Linked DNA regions of Homo sapiens: region 2 is reported to be linked to region 1. Evidence: microRNA targets listed by miRTarBase, many of them from high-throughput screens and not tested one by one. Region 1 holds a microRNA gene; the other region holds the end of a gene's coding sequence.

What was found. The annotated mature microRNA hsa-miR-6838-5p reads AAGCAGCAGUGGCAAGACUCCU and lies in region 1 at 1,771-1,792, opposite strand. An mRNA with a match to its seed (bases 2 to 7 or 8) in the 3' UTR can be bound and repressed. Matches are read on the target gene's strand: a 7mer-m8 pairs with bases 2 to 8, a 7mer-A1 pairs with bases 2 to 7 and ends in A, and an 8mer does both.
Region 2: miRTarBase lists PDIA6 as a target of hsa-miR-6838-5p. Seed matches in the 3' UTR shown: 7mer-m8 at 511-517.

Annotation. Positions count from the first base shown.
Region 1 is chr7:44,071,637-44,075,980 of GRCh38, forward strand. It overlaps MIR6838 (microRNA 6838), which reads right to left and starts at 1,797; the gene lies at 1,742-1,797. It overlaps POLM (DNA polymerase mu), which reads right to left. Exons shown (of 11, transcript NM_013284.4): 7 at 2,762-2,894; 8 at 2,495-2,597; 9 at 2,147-2,389; 10 at 1,989-2,072; 11 at 426-1,741. The coding sequence ends at 1,655. RefSeq lists enhancers at 2,463-2,662, 2,733-2,802.
Region 2 is chr2:10,780,488-10,784,487 of GRCh38, reverse strand. PDIA6 (protein disulfide isomerase family A member 6) reads left to right here. Exons shown (of 13, transcript NM_005742.4): 13 at 162-1,097. The coding sequence ends at 230. It overlaps ATP6V1C2 (ATPase H+ transporting V1 subunit C2), which reads right to left. Exons shown (of 14, transcript NM_001039362.2): 13 at 2,113-2,245; 14 at 1-1,314. The coding sequence ends at 1,225. Among named protein-coding and RNA genes, the nearest start is that of PDIA6, 30 kb to the left of the region's middle.

The DNA.
Region 1 (4,344 bases):
TTTTTTTCTTTTTAGGCAGACTCTTGCTCTGTCGCCCAGGCTGGAGTGCAGTGGCACAATCTCAGCTCACTGCAACCTTGGCATCCCAGGTTCAAGCAATTCTTATGCCTCAGCCTCCCGTGTAGCTGGGAATACAGGTATGAGCCAACATGCCCAGCAAATTTTTGTATTTTTTGTAGAGATGGGGTTTCGCCATGGTGGCCAGGCTGGTCTCAAACTCCTGGCCTCAAGTGATCCACCCGTCTCAGCCTCCCAAAGTGCTAGGATTACAGGCATGAGCCACGGCATCCGGCCACAACCCAGACATTCAACACCTGAATGGATAAACTGTAGAACACCCATGGCATGGAACAAATTACAAACTCAACATACCCAGCAACCTGCAGGAACGTCAAAGGCATTAGGCTGTGGGGAGAGGCCAGTCCAAAGGTTAAATATAGTTTGGTTCTATTTACATGACATTCTAGAGAAAGCAAAACTATAGGGATGTAGCACCGCTAAGTGGGTGGGGGTGGAGAAGCACATGACCACAATAGGACAGCATGGGAAGTGTTCTGGGGATGGACCTGGTGTGCCCTACGTGTGCAAAAACTGCACCCCAAGAGTCAACTTTACTGCATGTTTTCAAAATATTTTTTAATGTGATGAGTGGTCTGGGAAATCCTCGCCTAACAAAGTGGCTTTTGATTCAAGGCCTGAAGAAGGGGAGGGCCCACTCCAGGTAGATGACATGGCCAGGGCAAAACCTGAGGCCAGAGTGTGCCTGGGGATATGAGGGACGTGGAGGGCACCCATGTCCAGCCCACCTCAGTGCTTCTGCCTCAGTGAGAAGGGGAGGGAGTTGGCCACAAGGGGGCCTGGGTGCATCAAATAGGAAGCCGGTGAGTCAAGCAGCTCGGGGCCAGTGGGGCTGGAGAGATGCCAGAGCCAGGGGCTATGTGTGGACTTAGGGTTTGGAACCATTAAAGGGCTCTGCGACGGGAGTGGCAGGATATGACCTATTTTTGAGACATTGTGCTGAGAACAGGCCTTAAAGGCAGAAGCACAGAGCCTGGCTCGGGGCGCTGCAGTACTGAAGCCCCATAGTTGAAAATTATCTTCCTCCCAGCTCCTACCCAGGCCCTCTCCCTCTCCAGATGCCTACAGCACACCAGACAGTAGGCTCCTTGCTGGCACGAACCACAGCCTCCAGCTCATGGCTCTCAAATGCAGTGCAGGTATGCATGGTTCTCTTCTGGGCATTCTGGGCAGGGTGCCCTGCAGGAGCCACAGTTAACTGCAGTGCAACTAATGAGACACTGCACATCAGGGACCACTTGCCATTCATGACTGCAGGCCCCACCACAGCTCCACGATGTGGGCCCCACTCACATCCCATCCAGGGCAGGAACGTGAGCCATGGGGAGGCTAAGAGCAGACCCAGGGTCACACAGTGATGAGGCTGGCACTGAGGGCTCCCACCTCATCACACCCTGCAGCACACCAGCAGGGGCTCAACTGATCCTGCAGGCACAATTGACCTCCGGAAGAGCCAGGCCTTGGCGGGGAGGGGTGAAGGTGGGGGTCAGGGGGCAGCATATCTGCCTGGAGACATTCAGTGGCCAGGTTGGGGGCAGCCCAATTTCCTGAGTGGAAGTGGGGGACACAGGCAGGCTCAGGCGTTTCTCTGCTCTGGAGGAAGGTACTCAAGGCCCAGGTGTCTGAAGATGTCTTCCTCTGAAGCCGCTTGGAAAAATGTCTTCTGCAACAGAAGCAGGACTTCCGTGACCTAGGAGTCTTGCCACTGCTGCTTCCCTGCAGGAAGACTGAGGGTGGGGAAGAGCCCAGCGCCGAGGTGGGGTGTGCTCTTGAGGGCCAGGAACTGTGTGTGGAGACCCAGATTCGGGTCCTATGGGTTTCAGGCTGGAGGGGTCTGGGGCCATTTCAGATTGTGGGTCAGGGAGCGGACTATGGGTGCTGTTTGCTGTCCCCAGTCCCCAACAATGTACCTGCTCCGGGTCAAACAGCCCATGGCTGTTCAGCCACAGGCCCTTCTCCTTCCGGCTGAAGCGGCGCAGCTCCCGCTGGAAAAGCTGTAGGGAAGGGATTGTCCTCAGCAGGGCTGGCCCAGCCCCACCCCCAGGCGGCCCAGCGGCACACTGCCTACCTTGGAGCCAGTCCAACCGAGCAGGGCGAAAGGGAACTGGCTGACGGGTGCAACTACCAAGTCCACTCTCACGGCCTTCCAGGATGGGCAGGGCCTCGTGGATCCCCCCACAGCAGCCCCTGGAGGTTGTGGTAGGCGGAAAATGCAGAAACTTCTCTCAAAAGCGTCCATGTGGCTCTGTTGGGCCAGGCGGGTAGGGGACTCACAGCAGCTGTGCTGGTGCTGGTGGTACAGGATGAGGCCCTGTGGGGAGAGGCGGGCGTGGCTGAGACCATCCGGTGGTGTGGAGAGAGCAGGAGGCAGTGGCATTGGCCAGCGGTGGCTCTTGGGGAGCAGGGAGGCCCTCACCTGGTCCTGCAGGCGGCACATCACTCTAGGCAGCAGCCCCGCCTCCTGACCCTCCTTGGGGTGGGTGATGAGGAAGTCCACGTCATGGCCCTGCAACTTCCCCCTGAGGGCGTCAGTCTGACTCTGACTCAGGGACACGGCCTGCTCACTCCAGCCCCAGGCCACATCCCTTCCAACGAGTGGGCCCGCTTCAGGGTCCCCGACTCAGGTCCCTTCACTGGGGAGGGGTCTGAAGCCAAGCCAGAGGGGCACGTCGGGCCTTCTTACCTGCGGAAGCCGCCGGTCAGCGTGACGGTGGCCCCAGGCAGGGCCTGCCCCACAGCTTCCTCCACCACCTGCTGCAGGGCATCTACATCGGACCGCAGGACTGGGGTGCTCAGGTCCTGGTGGTGCTGGAGCCCTGGGGGCAACACCGGCCCTCCTGACTCACCCAGCCTGCCCACCACACCGAGCCCCCATCCCTCACCAGCATGAGGTGATCAACCTGGGGCCCCGTCATTGCAGGACCAGGAGAGGCCTCCGAGGAAGGTGAGGCTAGGGCAGGGAGCAGAGTGAGATCCCAATCTAAGCCTGACACTATCTTCTCTCCCCCTTTAAATTTTAAACTTTTATTTTGAGACAGTTGTAGATTCACTCGCAGTTAAAAGAAATAGCACAGAGGGAGATCCCATGTGCCTTTTACCCAGCTCCCCCAAAAGGTTAACCCCTTACAAAACTATAATTTTGCAACCAAATATAAGGATACTGATGTTGATACAGTCATGCCACAGGCTATCTCTTTTGATGGCTGTTTTTCCTTATGCATAAAGTGGGACCAAGAGGTGGTAAAAGGATGGAAGATGGCTTTGCCATGACGAACACCTCACTCTGGCCTACTTCTGTTTCCTCACCTATCAGCCTCCCACACGCAGTTAAGGAGAGGTTTATTTATTTATTTGAGATGGAGTCTCGCTCTTGTTGCCCAGGTTGGAGGGCAGTGGCGCAATCTGAGCTTACTGCAACCTCCACCTCCCAGGTTCAAGTGATTCTCCTGCCTCAGCCTCCCGAGTAGCTGAGATTACGGGTGTCTGCCACCACACCCAGCTAATTTTTTATTTTTAGTAGAGACAGGGTTTCGCCACGTTGGCCAGGCTGGTCTTGAACTCCTAACCTCAGGTGATCCACCCGCCTCGGCCTCTCAAAGTGCTGGGACTACATAAAGATGTGAGTCATGGCACCCAGCTAAGGAGAGGTTTAAATGTGAGGAACAGCAGCACCTGGCACAGTGAGCTCTCAGTAAACGCTGCTAACCATTCCTGACTACTCTTGCCATGGGGAGAGGCGATCAAGAGGAACCAGCTCTGCGGGTCTCACCTCCTGTCAGCTGAACTGGGCAGTGGCCCGGGGGAAGATGTGCGAAGAGGCAGTGGAGCTGGCAGTGCCTGCTGGGCTGTGGGGATTGCTTCAGCAGAGCCCTCAACCCAAGGGAGGTCCCAGATGGTGTGGCCAGAGTAGCCAGGCAGGCCATGCAGAGAGAACAGAGTATCTGCTCAACACCTGCCACTTGCCGGCTCTCACAGGGGAGCCTACGAATTCATTCCTTCCCACCTTTTTTTTTTTTTTTTTTTGAGATAGGGTCTTGCTCTGTCACTCAGGCTGGAGTGCAGTGGCTCAATCTCAGCTCATTGCAACTTCCACCTTGGCCTCAAGGCTTGACCTCCCGGGCTCGAGCGATCCTTGTACCTCGGCCTCATGAGTAGCTGGTACTACGGGCATCCACCATCACGCCTGGCTAACTCTTGTATTTCTCGTAGAGACAGGGTTTCACCCTGTTGCCCAGACTGGTCTTGAACTGCTGAGCTCAAGCGATC
Region 2 (4,000 bases), not on the chromosome of region 1:
GTATAATCATAGGTACGAAGGTCAGGGTAGGAGTCAGACTGAGGAGAACCTGGATTGTAGCAGGAGTAGCTCCAGAGAGTCGCTCTTCCATAAAATGAGATGTTGACCTTCCAGGGTGTCCCCTTCTGCAGATCTAACAGTGGCTTTCTGTCGTCTCCCAGCTTCCCGTGGAGGATGACATTGACCTCAGTGATGTGGAGCTTGATGACTTAGGGAAAGATGAGTTGTGAGAGCCACAACAGAGGCTTCAGACCATTTTCTTTTCTTGGGAGCCAGTGGATTTTTCCAGCAGTGAAGGGACATTCTCTACACTCAGATGACTCTACCAGTGGCCTTTTAACCAAGAAGTAGTACTTGATTGGTCATTTGAAAACACTGCAACAGTGAACTTTTGCATCTCAAGAAAACATTGAAAAATTCTATGAATTGTTGTAGCCGGTGAATTGAGTCGTATTCTGTCACATAATATTTTGAAGAAAACTTGGCTGTCGAAACATTTTTCTCTCTGACTGCTGCTTGAATGTTCTTGGAGGCTGTTTCTTATGTATGGGTTTTTTTTAATGTGATCCCTTCATTTGAATATTAATGGCTTTTTCCATTAAAGAATAAAATATTTTGGACAATGCCGATAAATGTATGAAGTTAGTATCCACATCATAAATTCAGAGTGATGTTTAGCAGTAAATCAATATTTTGAAGTGATACACAGATGTCTTTCCTCCCCACAAACTTTTTTAAACAAAAAACAAGACCTCTTTTCTTTAGATGGTGCCACCTATGCCCACCACAACAGAGATTTTACATGGAAACCGGGCTCAGTGAGAACTGATTTCCTGCCCAATATTTGTCTTTGGGCTGTCTCTAGTGACTAATTATTAAGGAATCTAGCTGGTTATACAGTTCAAGGCTTTCTATGTTGTTAATGAACCTCAAAATAGCCGTTAAGACATGAAATACAGCAGCAGGTTACCAATGCGAACAGGTAGTTCGCATTTATGTAAAACATTCAGAAAATGAAGTTTTGAATTTGTTGGAACATTCAAAGGACTTGAGAGCATTTTATTGTAACTTAAAAAAATAAATACAACTGTCACTAACTTTTGTGAGCAATTTCTCTGAAAAAGATCTTAGTTCTGTAAGACATTTGAACCATTCTCTGGCTAAAGGAAAGAGGTGTCTGTAATAATCTGCACGAACATGAGACAGAGGTGCCAGCTGGCCTTTCTAGTCAAGAAGACTAAGGTCAATATGGAAGTAGACATAAGGAAAATAGTCTTGGTTATTGAGTTGCAGTCCCGGGATCTCCACAGATGCCTACAAAAGAAGACATGGTAATGCTCTAAGTGCATAAACTAGTTTCCTGTCTTATCCTTTTAGTTTTGAGGAAGCTCGCCAGGCACTGAGCGTACGTTCTGCTCTGCGTAGCTGTGGTCCACCCCTCCAACCCTCTCCTTGCTGTGCTTTAATGTGTATGACATGTAGATTTTCATAACAGGCTGACAGATAGTTTTGCTTTGTTTTGTTTTTGAGACAGTTTCTGTCACCCAGGCTGGACTCAGCTCACTGCCTGCCTCAGACTCCCAAGTAGCTGGGATTACAGGCATGCACCACCACTCCTGGCAAATTTTTTTTTTTTTTTTTTTTTTTTTTTTTTTTTTGAGACAGAGTCTTGTTCTGTCGCCAGGCTGGAGTGTAGTGGCGTGATCTCAGCTCACTGCAACCTCCGCCTCCCAGGTTCAAGCGATTCTCCTGCCTCAACCTCCCAAGTAGCTGAGACTACAGGCACACACCACCATACCCAGCTAATTTTTGTATTTTTAGTAGAGACAGGGTTTCACCATGTTGGCCAGGTTGGTCTCCATCTCTTGACTTCGTGATCCACCCGCCTTGGCCTCCTGAAGTGCTGGGATTACAGGCGTGAGCCACTATGCCCAGCCCAATTTTTTTTTTAGTAGAGACAGGGTCTTACCATGTTGGCTAGGCTGGTCTCAAACCCTTGACCTCAAGTGATCCACCTACCTCCCAAAGTGTTGGGATTACAGGCAGATACCAGTTTTTTGAAAGTAAGATGCTGAGCTTACTGTAGAAATACTGCTGTTTCTGGATACCTACATCCAGTATACTTGTAGCGGCTACTTCATCCAGATGTCGGAAGACAGAGTTTAGAACCTCTCTTAAACGCTTGGTGGATGACTTCTTATGCGGCTGCAGGAGCACTGCCTGGAAGTTCACTGGTAGTCCATACCTTTTCAGATAGACAAAATGTGTCAGTTCACTGCTCCAAATGCAAACACGGATAGAAGGAACCTGACCAGAAACAGTACATTCCGAGGGTGAAAAGCTTCAACCAACACAGCTTCATAAAGTCAAACTCGAGCAAAATGCCTAGGGTCAGCGGTGATCTCTGGATAGAAAAAGCTCTAGAATTTGCTAACCCCCTTCTGATAGCTAGTTTTCAACTATAGAGCAAAAGAGGTCATCCCTCTGGCCATGAATGGCCATTCCACGGTGCATGCTCAAGTTGAATGCAGGTAGTTGGACTGAACATTCGGACTCCAAGGCGTTTGTCTAAAACCCAGCTCGGCCGTTTTTCTCCACTAAAGGAGAGGCAAAAATCTGGTTTATCAAGATTGTTACTATTTTCGCTGAGTTTTTGGGTAGATAGAAAACATTTTTAACATACCTAGTTGTATGCCTGAGCATGTTTAAAACCAGTTGTTGGGATGAGCTATTCCTGGGGTGTTAGCCCACACAAAATATAGCAAGTGCTGTAAATGGAAAACATTTTGTGATTGTTGATGTATTTTTATACTCTGAGGGAGCAAAGGATCGGATGTTCAGTAGTTAGCACCTATGTTCCCTCGGGATCCCCAGGCCTTGATGTGAAGTCTGTTTTTACACGCCCTTCCACTCACCTAGTACTCTGTGCAGACGGGGCTGCCATAAAGATAAGTCCTGGGAGCAGGACCTATTAATATTACTAAGGTTTTATTTATCTATTTTTTTTTTTGAGACAGAATCTCGCTCTGTCACGCAGGCTGGAGTGCAATGGTGCGATCTCGGCTCACTGCAGCCTCCACTTCCTGGGTTCAACCGATTCTCCTGCCTCAGCCTCCCAAGTAGCTGGGATTACAGGCGCCCGCCACCACCACGCCAGGCTAATTCCACCACAGTCATTACCAACTTGCACTGGAGGTTGTTTATTCATCTAGGACACGTCCTTAAAGCTTAAGGCGCTCCTCCCCCAGCAGCCTGGCTTGAGGGAGAGGCCTGCCTCTGTTGTGCTCGCTGTGGTGGGTGGTAGGCACCCTAGGTCCTTAAGGGACATACGCTCCAGCCCTTAACCTTTCCTCAGCCTCTGAGTTCTTCCGGCCCTGTCCTGTCTCTGTGGCACCCGTCCTGCTAATAATGCCTTCTCCATTCTGCCCAGAACAAGACACCATGCCGGGTGCAGTGGCTCACACCTGTAATCCCAGCACTTTGGGGGGCCAAGGCAGGCTGGATCACCTGAGGTCAGGAGTTCAAGACCAGCCTGGCCAACGTGGTGAAACCCCGTCGCTACTAAAATTACAAAAATTAGCTGGGCGTGGTGGTGCACGCCTGTAATCCCAGCTACTAGGGGAGGCTGAGGCAGGAGAATTGCTTGAACCTGGGAGGTGGAGGTCGCAGTGAGCTGAGATTGTGCCACTGCACTCCAGCCTAGGCGACAGCAAGAGTCCATCTCAAAAAAAAAAAAAAGGACCCCAGGAGCGGCTGGCCCATCGGTCTCAACCTCTTTCTTGGGCAGATGCGCATCCTGGAAGGCATGGACAGGCTTCACTGTGTTAGGCCGTTAGGCCTGAGAGCAACCGACTTCTGAGCCGGGCAGGGTTGATCTGGGGCCATGTATATTAGAGATGGCTAGAACACTCCCAGGAGCTGGGTACACCCTCCAACCCAATGCTGCCATCCGTGTCGGTACAGGCTTTTGAGATGGGCGTGCACAGGTGCGCATGGGTAC